3 separate regions of the Homo sapiens genome follow, and all the other regions are linked to region 3. Evidence: fine-mapped expression QTL. A gene starts in region 3. Each other region holds a variant in brackets. All regions are shown on one strand. Distances are between the middles of the regions. Region 1 has its middle 23 kb from the start of DTNBP1. Region 2 overlaps DTNBP1 (dystrobrevin binding protein 1). Region 3 holds the start of DTNBP1 (dystrobrevin binding protein 1).

Region 1 (4,353 bases), 22 kb before region 3:
AGTGAGCCGAGATCGCGCCACTGTGCCCCAGTCTGGGTGACAGAGTGAGACTCCATCTCAAAAAAAATAAAAAATAAATCATTAAGACTTTTGGAAATGGGTATCTCATTGTATTCCTTATGTCACTGACTCTCAGATGCAAATTTTTTTTATATTTTAACATTGTTGAAATCAGGGTGCCTGTTACAGTCACTGAGACCAGGCAGCCGTCACGATGTAGCTATCATCGCCTGTGCTTATTCGTCCAAAAGTGCTAAATCGTGTCGGGGACCTGGGGGAGAATTCCAGAGACAAGAGTGGAGCACTCTTTCAAGAACATTCTTGATTTTAAAACATGGACATTAATGAGTCAATGTCAAAAATGGTTCTGAAGAGTTGGATTCGGAATGTGTAGAAGTTTTAGGAATGCTTAACCAGTTTGTTTCAATTATATTTCACTTTTCATATATGAGTGTATATGTATATACAAACATGATAGAGAGTAATATCTTTGCTGGCCGGGCGCAGTGGTTCACACCTGTAATCCCAGCATTTTGGGAGGCCGAGGTGGGTGGATCACAAGGTCAGGAGATCAAGACCATCCTGGCTAACACAGTGAAACCGCATCTCTACTAAAAATACAAAAACAAAATTAGCTGGGCGTGGTGGCGGGCGCCTGTAGTCCCAGCTACTCGGGAGGCTGAGGCAGGAGAATGGCGTGAACCCGGGAGGCAGAGCTTGCAGTGAGCCGAGATTGCGCCACTACACCCCAGCCTGGACGACAGAGCGAGACTCCATCTCAAAAAACAAACAAACAAACAAAACACCTGAGACCCGAGATAAGACTCTATTTGGGGCTCCCCAGTTGTAAGGTGTTCCGTGCATACATCATTGGTTCCTGATCTGGGAGAGGGCATGTCAAGCACGGCCCTTACAGAGGGAGGATAATTGGAGCTTGCACCTGGCCTCCCTGGACCCCTTGCTGTGACACAACCCTTGGTTGTGATGCACGCCCCTACTTCAATGCTGCTGCTATATCGTATCCTTTTCCGGCAGTAAACTGTAGATCGGTAAGCACTGTCATTTGGTGTCCTGTAAGTCTTTTTTTTTTCGAAACGGAGTCTCGCTCTGTCTCCCACGCTGGAGTGCAGTGGCGCGATACCGGCTCACTGCAAGCTCCGCCTCCCGGGTTCCCGCCATTCTCCTGCCTCAACCTCCCGAGTAGCTGGGACTACAAGCGCCCGCCACCGCGCCCGGCTAATTTTTTTTGTATTTTTTAGTAGAGACGGGGGTTTCACCGTGTTAGCCAGGATGGTCTCGATCTCCTGACCTCGTGATCCGCCGCCTCGGCCTCCCAAAGTGCTGGGATTACAGGCGTGACCTGTCTTTAACAATGGAACTTTGCTCAACTGCCACCAATAAAGCAGATGCCTGTTAGGCATTTGGTAGGCTGTTTACAGAAATGGCCTCTAAAGCTCCTCCATCAAAGGTGAAGTCTATTTCTCCACCCTTTGAATTAACCAGTGACTCTCTTTTGGTAATAGAATGTGGTAATAGGAACAGTGGCCAGTTCTGGGTCTAAGCCTTGTTAAATGAAGCCAAATTCCCACCTGGGGTTGCCTCCATACTTTGAGTCCCTATGTAACAAACTGCAATCCAACTTAGACATAAATTAAATGAAAGCAGAAATCATGAGCCGACTTTTGTAACAAATAGCTGAGTCCCAGCCAATCACAGCAGCTGAGCTTCAGTAGGTCACAGGTGGCCAACTGATCAGACCAGGTTCAAATATGGTGTCTGCTGATTGGTTACTGAGCTGTAACCAAGCTGTTTCTGTACCTCACTTCTGTTTTGTCTATAAATGCTGCCTGCCTTGCCTTGCAAATTAGGGGGCTCTCGCGCGAGAGTTCTTGCTCTCTCTTCTTCTTCCTCCCTCTCTCCCTCTCTCCTAGGCCATCCCGCTGGAGGATGAGACATGTGCAGCAGAGCGGAATCAGCTCAGTTGTCCCAGCTGAGGCCCCATACATTTGAGAAAGCCCAGCAAAGATTAGTCAAGCCACTCGGCAAACCCACAGCCGACAACGGATGCATAAATGAGCTTCGCCAATCCCAATTCAAATAATCTGGACTGCCCAGCTGGCCCACAGACTGTAAACAAAAAAAATAGTTTGTTATTATATGCACCTAAGGTTTTGTAGTTGTATGTTATACAACATTATTGTGGCAATAAGTAACTGACACAGATATCCAAGTAGAGATGTCAAGTAGGCAGTTGGATGCATGGGTCTGAAGTTCAGGTGGAAAGTCCAAGCTGGAGGAAATTTTGAGAGCAGTAAGGATTGTAGTGGACAGTCATCTGCTCCACCTGGATTCCCTGGAGTAACTTGTTTTCTGAGAGC[C/T]CCACTCATGCTTTTGCTTCTAACACCCAGCACCTGTGTCTCTTTGGAGCCTTGCCCTTGGGCTTTTAGAGCTGCTTTGCCCCCTACAACTACAGAACAAGATATACCTGGAAATTTACTTATCTCTAGGAAAGGGGTTCCCAACCTTTTTGCCACCAGGGACCGGTTTCATGGAAGACAATTTTTCCATGGACCGGGTGGTGCAGAGGGATGGTTTTGAGATGATTCAAGCACATTACATTTATTGTGCTCTTTATTTCTATTATTATTACATTGAAATATATAATGAAATAATTATATAAATCACCATAATGTAGAATCAGCGGGAGCCCTGACCTTGTTTTCCTGCAACTAGATGGTCCCATCTAAGGATGATGGCAGTCAGTGACAGATCATTAGGCGGTAGATTATCATAAGGAGCCTGCAACCTAGATCCCTCGCATATGCAGTTCACAATAGGGTTCCCGCTTCTATGAGAATCTAACACCGCCGCTGATCTGACAGGAGGTGGAGCTCAGCTTCACTCTCTCACCCACTGCTCATCTTCTGGTGTGCAGCCCAGTTCCTAACAGGCCATGGACAAGTACCAGTCCATGGTACCGGTCCGGGGGTTGGGGACCCCTGCGCCATATGACAGGAGGTGGAGCTCAGGTGGTAATGCGAGAGGTAATAGGGAGTGACTGTAAATACGGATGAAGCTTTGCCTGCTTGCTCGCCTACCACTCACCTCCCGCCGTGCAGCTCAGTTCCTAACAGGCCACAGACCAGTACCGGTTTGTGGCCCAGGGTCTGGGGACTCCTATTCTAGGACAACCCTTGACCAGTGACAGACAGGCACAGGGTGCAGAGGGCGAGGTGTGTGAAAGCCTAGTTCTCTTTTCTCTGAAAAACTCTGGGCATACCTCAAGCCCCAGGGTTTCTTTACGCCCAGGACTGGGCTAAAACTACCCTCTGCAAAGACTGCCTACCTTTGCTGGGCTTCTTCTCCTCTGTTTGCATCCCCCTCTCCCTTACCAGTCTGGGGATTATTTCCTTAAGAAATCGTGTGCTCACAAATCAGGCTCTGCTTCTGGGTGACCCACCCTAAGACAAACACGTAAGTAATGTTTGAAGCCATGAGTGTAGATCAGCTATCTATAAGATTATCAAGGGGCTTGGTATCCATAGTTATTCTCTATATTTAGCATTTTAAGACAATTTGATTTTTTTTTTTAATTTTGGATTCCTTTTTAAATTTTGGAACCAAGGCAATTCTGAACGTTTCTAAGTATAAAGTCTGCCCTTGCACTGATGAATTTATGTAGCAAATATTTAAGATTCTGCCAGAGTAGGATTTTCTAACCAGGTCAACATCCCCTTGACACATATTTGCTTCTGGATGCAAATATAGAAATAAAGAGAGGGATGTGAGTGTGTGAGTCTGTGTGTAAGTGAGTGTGTGTGTGTCTGTGTGTGCACACACTCCTGTTGAGGCGGGAATAAAGGAGACTTATGCATGTTATTGGCCATCAGGCAAAGTGAGGAACAGCCCCTGTGGAACTAGAGTGCATTCCAGATTCTGGGATGTTTTGCACAATATCTAAATGTGGTGAAGCTCTAAAAAGGAAAAATGGCCACAAGTATACGTCATTCAAAAATATTTAGGTCATTTACTATATAACTGGCACTGTGCATGTAAGGTGAACTGATCAGACATGATTCTGCCCTCTCTGTCCTTAAAAGTTTGATGGTGAGAGAAGGAGAGATAGGCATTAAATAATTACCTAGATAATTATTTACTTATAATTATGTGTGTTTGAAAGAAAAAGTAGAAGACATTCTCAGAGTAAATAACTGGGGACTAGCATTGTCTGAACCAACAAGAGAGACTTCCCTGAGTAAGTGGCCTCCAAGTCAAGCCTGAGGGATGAATTGAGTTAAAGGGATATCAAGGGCACATGCTCAGGATTAGGGCCAGGAAGAGAGGTTTTCTTCA
Region 2 (4,000 bases), 67 kb after region 3:
AAAATGTTAGGGTGCAATTTGCAGTTGGTGTTTTGAATGTGGTATTTTGTGTTAGCCTTTTATCATGGATTTGTCCTAGGGAGGCAGTTTAGGATTTAGAGAGAGTTTGCTTTATCTGTGTTTATGGAGGCATTTATCCAGTAGCTTCTGTCTATTAAGTTTTCATCTTCAGTCTGAGCTAGTTGATTTCTACTCATATATATAGATTTAATATACTTCTTGTAACATTCCATAGGCTTATTAATGTGATTCTTTCTTTCATTTTTATTCTTTATAACTCAATCCCTGGAGAGAAAATGATTAAATAATAGCAGTTTCACCCTTTGGAATATTATTAGCTTTTGATCCTGCTGTTATTTTTTGAATGTTTTAGTTTTAGGGTTATGCTAAATTTTGTAAAGGCATTAGCTGAATTGAGTAAATTTTGAAATATGTTAACATTTAAAATGAGACATTTCAATTTTTTGTTTGATCTTCTGAAAATACTATTAAACTATGGAAATAAACTCAATTTTTAGAAAATGCAAGCAACAAACAAGTTGTTTCAAATGAGATAATATTTGATCAAACTTTATCAAAAATAAAATCTATATTTTATTACAGCAATGGCCTCTTTGAAGAAGCAGATCTTAGTCATCCTGCAGCCTCAGTACTTGGTAATCATGATTTGCTGAGTGTCTGTTGGGTCCAACTCTGGGCACGCATGTGATGCAGGATGGAAGAGATGCAGTCTCTGCACTTCAGGAACTGTAGAGACGATACCTGTATGAACAGAACCACATTACAAGGCAGCACATGAAATGTATAATATTGATAGAGTTTAGTGCTACAGAATTTTTGATAAAGGAGAGATCACTGATTGGATGTCAATGAAGTCTTCTTGGAAAAGATGAACTTGAAGGCTGTTTTACACTAATTATTATTATTAGCATTTTTATGCTAATAACACAGTTTGAAGGAGAGTGACTGGAACTTAAAACTCCTGCTTACCCATGCTTTTTCATCTGGTTAGCTGAGAGTATGTCTTAATGCTTAAGAGTAAAATATCTGCCATGTTCTCGATAAATGTTGCCCATCATCATCAGTTATACTGTCCTTGAAAATGCATCAGCTCAGTCCTTGCTTCTCCAGGAGGCCTTTCCTACCAAACCTAAGTGTATGAGTTGTCCTCTCTTCTTTATTCCTAGAGAATCCTCAGCATGTCATTACCAAAGCACTATAATCTATGACATTGATTTCTAATTATTGCTTTATTTCTCTGTCTCTCCCACTAAAGTTCCTTGAGGTTATGGAACATGTCTATTCCAAACCTAGCATTATTCCTAATGCTATTCCTAACATTATCATAGTGTCTAAGGCTTAGTAAATTTTTGTTGAATGAATGATTGAACTCAACCAAGATTATATTTAGTATACGAAAATGGATATTTATATAAGGTTGATGGCAGTGACGATGGAGAGAAGTGGATCAATTCAGGCTATCTTTTGAGATGGAATTGACAGGATTTATTGATGAATTGGATGGAGAATGAGGGAGATGGATGAGCCAAAACTTGAGGAGCCGGGTAATGCCATTAACTGAGATGACGTCGACTGGAGAAGAACAGGCTGTCTTGCAAATGTTTGAGTAGCCTACTCCACTTTTGCATAAAGCTATCAAATGGGCAGTTGCAT[A/G]TGAGTCTGGAGCTCAAAGAAGAGATCAAGACAGGAAATGTAATCAGGAAGTTAGTAGCATATGGATGGCATTTAAAGCTAGGGATGAAATTGGCTTATGAGCGAATGTAAGCTGAGGAGAGAAGAGGGCCCAGAACCAAGCCTGCAGCACTCCAGCATCTGGTGGTCTGGAAGGGATGGAGACAATAGCAAAAGAAACTGAGGAGGTGGGAGAACACTAGAGGGAACTGTTTCAAGAAACCACCAGTTGGGTCAAATGCTGCTTAAGGATTAGGATGAAAACAGAGAAGTGGTCTCTGGATTTGGCAACATGATGATTGTTGGTGGTGTTGATTGTGTAATGGGGGGTCCAGAAGCCAAATTGGAATGGGTTCAAGAGTGAATGCGAAGCGAGGGAGTAGGAATCTGTAGGAGTTAAATCCTCGAGTAGGCTGAAGGGGATGGGAATCCTGTCTGCAGCTTTCAGTCTTCCTGTTTCAGCAATTTCCAAACCGAACTCATGCATTGCCCTCCAAAATCTTTTCCTTCTTATGATCCAGACTAGAACTGCCCCGGTTAGCATGCTTGTCTCCTTCCTCTCCTTACCCCATTGAGTCAGATGCCTTGGGCTGTTGAGTCTTCTTTATGATACTTTTCAAATTGGAATCCTTCATTTCATTGTCATTACCACTTAACATTGCTCTTGCCAAGTATTAATTAGCTCTTCCCCACGTGCCCCCAACGTGAGTTTCCTGTGTACTCACTGCTTTTATTCTCTCCCTTGCCAGTATATCCATCCATCACAGCTAGAACGTTCTTCCTAAAATACAGCTTTGCTCATGTTATTCTCCTGCTAAAAATAAAACAAAATATTTTAGCCTGGCACTGAGAACTCTCTACCTTTTTATCTGAATTACTTTCTCTTCATTCAGCCTGCTGTTCTGAAGTATTTGCTCCAGGACAAGTACTTGCTGAAGTATTGCTGTTCTGAAGTCTGTTTCCTAAATATAACCTGCGTCGTCTTTGGCCTCTGTGACCTCACAGTCACTGCTGCCTGTGACTGACATGCCTTTCCCTGCCTTCTCTTACATTTTCTATATTTCCAAATGCTGAGTACCTCTAACAGATGGTGGAGTACACCCTAACAATTGTGAAATTTCAAGGCTTTCAGTGCTGCTGCTTTACCTCATCAGTTCCTTAAAAGTTCCATAATACTGGTTGGGCACGATGACTCATGCCTGTAATCCCAGGACTTTGGGAGGCCGAGGCAGGTGGATCAACTGAGGTCAGGAGTTTGAGGCCAGTCTGGCCAACATGGTGAAACCCCATCTCTACTAAAAATACAAAAATTAGCCAGGCATGTGGTGGTGGGTGGCTGTAATCCCAGCTACTCGGGAGGCTGAGGCAGGAGAATTGCTTGAACCCGGGAGGCAGAGGTTGCAGTGAGCCAAGATCACACCGCTGCACTCCAGCCTGGGTGACAGAGCAAGACTCTGTCTCAAAAAAAAAAAAAAAAAAAAAAAAAAAAAAAAGTTGCATAATACTGATTTTTTTCTTTAAACCAATTATTTGTACCACCACTACTTCAAGCAGTCATCTGTTTTAGGAATTGGGTACAGGAATGATTTTCTGAAGGGAAGTTTCCTGGAAATTTCGCTGACAGTTGTGGAGTTGTGGGTCATGACGCTGTGTGACAGAGGATGCCCAGAAGATGCTGGGCTTGTCCTCTTCACAGCAGCAGACAGACGGTTGCAGGGTGAGCAGGATGAGTCCACAGGAAAACCGCCCTCCTCAATTGCACACTCACTCATTAATGTATTTAATAGTAGTTGCTGGATTCCTTGTTTTTATGGTTGTTAGTATTTGGGGGTAGGAGAATAACAGTGTCTGTGAAATCATTATTCTGAGTTTCAGCTTTTTAAAACAAGAGAGCCCTTTAGAAATTCTGCTCACAGTCACACATTCTAAAAGAAGAAAATTAGAAGCTCTCTAAACATTGTAATCATAGAAAAAAAAAAAGAATTACTCATTAGAATATTGAACTGAGTGTTCTGTCAACTTTCCCCACGTCGGGGAATTGCTAATGTGAGGATGTCACTAAGAAGTAGATTGAAGATATCTTTTTGAGATTCTCTTGTGATACATATTGCCTTCCTGTTGTATTCTGGTTTTTATTATCGGGGTATAAAGCAGGTTTTAGGCATATTTAGCTTGTACCTAGCTAAGCTTTTAAGAATGAAGTTGATTATTGACTGAAGGGAAACAATTACACAGGTTTTGTTTTTGTTTTTTTGTTTTGTTTCGTTTTTTTTTTTTTTGAGACAGAGTCTCGCTCTGTCACCCAGGC
Region 3 (4,295 bases):
GGCAAGAGTCTTTTTTGAGTGGATTTGGTGCTTTGTTGGAATGTATGAAACTTAGTAAATTGAAAGCTTATGTGTAGAGTTTAATTGAATAAAAGAAAAAAATTTAATATTTCCCAGTACTTGTGGTTTTCAAATCTACTAGATACTAAGGGACCTGTCTGTAGATTTGATCATTTGATCACTTGCTTTGTTCCAGGCACTGTTTCTGAGAGGTAGAAGAAGGCTCAATAAACAGCACTCCTCTTTCTTACTTGTCTGAGCAAACTGAGAAATAAAACAATAGTGTCAGCATAAAGAGGCCAAAATATCACTTTTATATCTAGGAAGACTGATGGAACACATGGCTTATATTCATGGGCAAGCAGAACTTCTAGTACCCAGTCACAAAAAGCACTGGGTTGCCCTTCAAGCCTGTCTTTAGGCAGCAGAATGAATGCTCTTTGTTGGAAGTGTTCACTCAACAAAAAGAAAAGAAGATGAGACCAAGCTCCTTACTTCTAGCTCACTAATCATCGTAGTCACCTCTTCCCCACCAGGAGAGGCTGGGTACTTCTTTATGTTAGCAGAAGAGCTCCCTTCCCATGGAAGAAAACATCAAGAGTGGGGAAGAGGTGGTCCCCCAGCTACAAGCTAAGTCCTTTATCTTATTTAACTCCTGCAACAAGACATTTACTGGGTGTCTGTTATGTGCCATTCACTGTTTTCATTGCTGGGGATGCAAAGCTTAATAAGACAGAGCAGTTTACATCTGGGCCTGTACTTGTGCTACTTACCTCACTGGCCTCATCCAATCCCAGCCCTAACAGATCCTGTGTATTTAAAATTTTGATATTTTGTTCATCACAGATTTTTTTTCATTAATTTTGAATTTTTTAAATATTGTATTAAAATATTACTTATCTTGATTACTGAGCTTTTTGGCTCCCGTAAATTTTGTACCTGAGGTGAATGCCTTATTTGTCGTGGTTTTAAAATATGTTTGTAAACAACTAAATTAATAAATAGCAAATAATTATTGAATAAATTTTCTAATGTGTACTAAGTTGAGAAACAGGCTACGTGATAGGAAGTGATTGGGTGTGTAACTTGAATGGTAAGTAAAACCTATCTAATGTGATGCTATTTAGGATGTGACCCTTATGTTATAAGGAGCCAGACAAGGGACAGTTTGGAGAAAAGTTTGTGAAAACACCACAGGTGGAAATAAACCTGGAATTTTCTAAGAACACACCAAAAAAAAAAAAAAAAAAAAGGCTATTATGTCTTAATTGTCAAGGACATGATAGGTGACTAGTAATCAATTTGGATACAGTGCTAGAAAACATTCAAATTTTAGGGCTTTTTAAGGGGGTAAGTAGTTTGAATTTTATTCCAAGTGCCCAGGAGGCAATTGGAAGATTTTAAGCAGGGGAGCAACGTGATCCGATTGATCTTTTAAATAACTCTTTCTGGCTGCTGTGTCAAGGATGGATTATAGGGGTGTGTATGGCAAAAGAGTAGAATCTGGAAGAACTGTCTGTGTTCCCATTGAAAGAGGATGGTGCCTTCGACCAGGATAAATATAGTGAAGATATAGAAAGAGAAGGAGGTTCCAGAAATACTTCAGGAGTAGAGTTGATTGGATTTGATGGGTTAATATGGGGAATGAGGAAAAGAGGGGAACCAGAGGTGATTTCAAGTGTCTTACCTTGAGCAAATTGGTGGATGGTGGTGTCATTTACTGAAACGGAAAATACAGGATGAGCAGATTAAAGGTGAACATGCAATGAATGAAATTTTCAATTTTGTGTATGTTGGTCTGAGATGCCTTTTGGATACATGTTGTATACATGCTTACATGAGTAAGCAACTGGTATGAATTGACGGAGAGGGAGGAAGGACAGGGCAGAAGATAGAGCTGTGGGAGTCATCGGTTCCTTGACAGAATTTACAGCGTGGTAATGGATAGACTCTATGCTATCCATCTATGGAACAACACATCTGGAGAAGAGAGAAGAGCTGGGGAGGCTGGACTGTAGCCTTGGGAGTGGCTATTAAAATAGGAGAAGGGGTGGAGCGGAAGGGAGAGAGGAACTATGGAGTGCTTAGCAAGAGAAGAAAGTGTTTTAAGGATGGGGATGATAAACTGCATTGAAAGCCACTGAGAGGTGGAGAAAAAATCAGGGCAGAGAAGTAATAAAAGGCATCAGCAACATGGAAGTCACTGGTGACTCGCGAAAGGCGATCACCTTTGGTGTGTAGGGCACAAAAGCCTGGGGGGGTAAAGAGAGAGTGGAAAGTAAGAATGTCGAGACAGTCGACTATTATTGCCATTTTATGAATGAAGAAACCGAGGCTCAATATTTGACTGTCTCATTCAAGGTGAAAGCCAGTGGGGTCAGATCCTGGACCTAGAATCCATGCAATGATTTGTGCACATCGCCTATTGAAGAGAGAGATCCAATTCTCTTCCAAAACGTAAAAGCCAACACTTCCCTCAAAGGAGGCTTCGAGTTAAATCATCCTTTCACGATGCCGCTTCCATTTTAAAGAAAAAAAAAAAAAAACGAGAAGGCCTGGTGCGGGATAGGAATGAGCCGAGGAGCTACTGGCCCTCTCGGTCGGGGGAAGACCCGCCCCTTTTCCGCAGCCCGAGCCCGGCGCAGTCCACTGCGGCTGCGCGAGCCTGGCGCGCGCGGGGCGGGAACGCGGAAGGGGCTGGGGTTGCGGCGCGGCGGCGAGGACCAGACCGGGGGCGGGGCCGGTAGTGGGAGTGCGGGGCGCGCGGTGACAGCGCGGGGTTGGCGGCGTGGGACCCAGGGGGCGACAGAGGCAGCAGCAGCCCGAGGCCTGAGGAGAGGAGACCGGCGGCGGCGGCAATGCTGGAGACCCTTCGCGAGCGGCTGCTGAGCGTGCAGCAGGATTTCACCTCCGGGTGGGTATACGGTGGGCGACGAAAAGGGACCTGAGGGGGCCGGGCCGCCGCCTGGGATGCCCCTGCCTCGCTCCCTTCCCCGCGCCACGGTCCAGGGTCCGTCCTGTCCCGCACCTCCCCGCCCCGCCCCGCCGAGGAAAGTAACGAACTTCCCGGCGTCCTCGCGTCGGGCGGCGCAAAGTAACTTAGGTCCCTGCGGGCCGCCTGTGACGCGCACCCCCCAGGACCGGGAGGCGCTCGGCGGCGCAGCGGAGCGCCCGGGGGGGGTGTGGGACCCTGCGGTCCTTTCCCGGCAGCATCAGCTGGGCCCTGGAGGGAAGTCATGTGAGAAGCCAGCGCGCCTCACCGCTTCCGCCCCCGCGGCACAGTGGCCTGCGCCCCTCGGCCCAGCAGACACCTGCTCGTGCGCACCTGGAGCTGGGCCAGCCACCCTCCCCGAGTCGGATCGCACCGCGCAGCAGCCTGCACCCTCCGGCCACAGCCTTCCGCGCCGCGTCTCGGCTTTCACGCCCGGCTCGCCGGCCTAACCCTTGGCAAGGCTGGCCGCCCCTCCCCGTTGCGTCCTTTCTCTACCTTTGCCGTGAGCTCAGCGCCTCGGCGAAGGAACTCCTAAGCAGGAGAAGCGACAGAACTTTAGGAATGCTTTTAATACCCAGCGGTTCCCAAACTTTGCTTAGAATCACCTGGGAACCTTTCAGAGTTCTGATGCCCAGGTCTCACCCCCTACCTGTTGACCAGAGTGCCTGGAGACGGCGTTTTAAAGATCCCCAGGGGATTCCAGTGGGCACCAACGCCTGGGAACCACAGGCCGAGACTCTGGCGCCAGATTGCCTAGGCATCCTGGCTCGACCACTAAATCAAACGTAGTTACTCAGCTGCCTTGCCTCAATGTACTGTTTCCGCTACCGTAAAATGGGGATAATGATGGTACTTAAAAGGTTATTACAAGGATTAATGAATTAATGTGTAAAACACGAAGCAAGCATCATGTCAGTATTGTTACTTAGTGCTTAATTTTAATTTTTTCATTCCTTTAAAGTGAAAAAGATCTGTCTTTGAAAAGGATCTTTCAACTTTAGCTTACAAATCCTGTTGGAGGATGCACTGAATGTGAGAACATTTCCACTCATACTGTTTTAAATTTCTCCCCCCCACCCCCCTTTTTTTTGAGATGGAGTCTTGCTCTGTCACCCAGACTGGAGTGCAGTGGCGTGATCTCGGCTCACTGCAACCGCCGCCTCCCGGATTCAAGCGATTCTCCTGGCTCCACCTCCTGAGTAGCTGGGACTAGAGGCGCCCGGCTTATTTTTGTATTTTTTAGTAGAGACGGGTTTCACCATATTGGCCAGGCTGGTCTCGAACTCCTGACCTTGTGATCCTC

The links. PIP is the estimated chance that this variant, and not a neighbour inherited with it, causes the effect. A credible set is the group of variants that fine-mapping cannot tell apart.
Region 1: its variant is the best candidate, but not a certain one, in a credible set for the expression of DTNBP1 in hippocampus (GTEx, PIP 0.82).
Region 2: its variant is the best candidate, but not a certain one, in a credible set for the expression of DTNBP1 in whole blood (INTERVAL, PIP 0.51).

What each region holds. Positions count from the first base shown.
Region 1 is chr6:15,683,752-15,688,104 of GRCh38, reverse strand. No RefSeq gene overlaps it. Among named protein-coding and RNA genes, the nearest start is that of DTNBP1, 23 kb to the right of the region's middle. The variant C/T (reference allele first, on the strand shown) is at 2,379.
Region 2 is chr6:15,594,436-15,598,435 of GRCh38, reverse strand. All of the region lies in intron 6 of DTNBP1 (dystrobrevin binding protein 1), which reads left to right. Among named protein-coding and RNA genes, the nearest start is that of DTNBP1-AS1, 50 kb to the right of the region's middle. The variant A/G (reference allele first, on the strand shown) is at 1,675.
Region 3 is chr6:15,661,433-15,665,727 of GRCh38, reverse strand. DTNBP1 (dystrobrevin binding protein 1) reads left to right here and starts at 2,700. Exons shown (of 10, transcript NM_032122.5): 1 at 2,700-2,914. The coding sequence starts at 2,859. RefSeq lists a silencer at 2,704-3,213 and an enhancer at 3,444-3,493.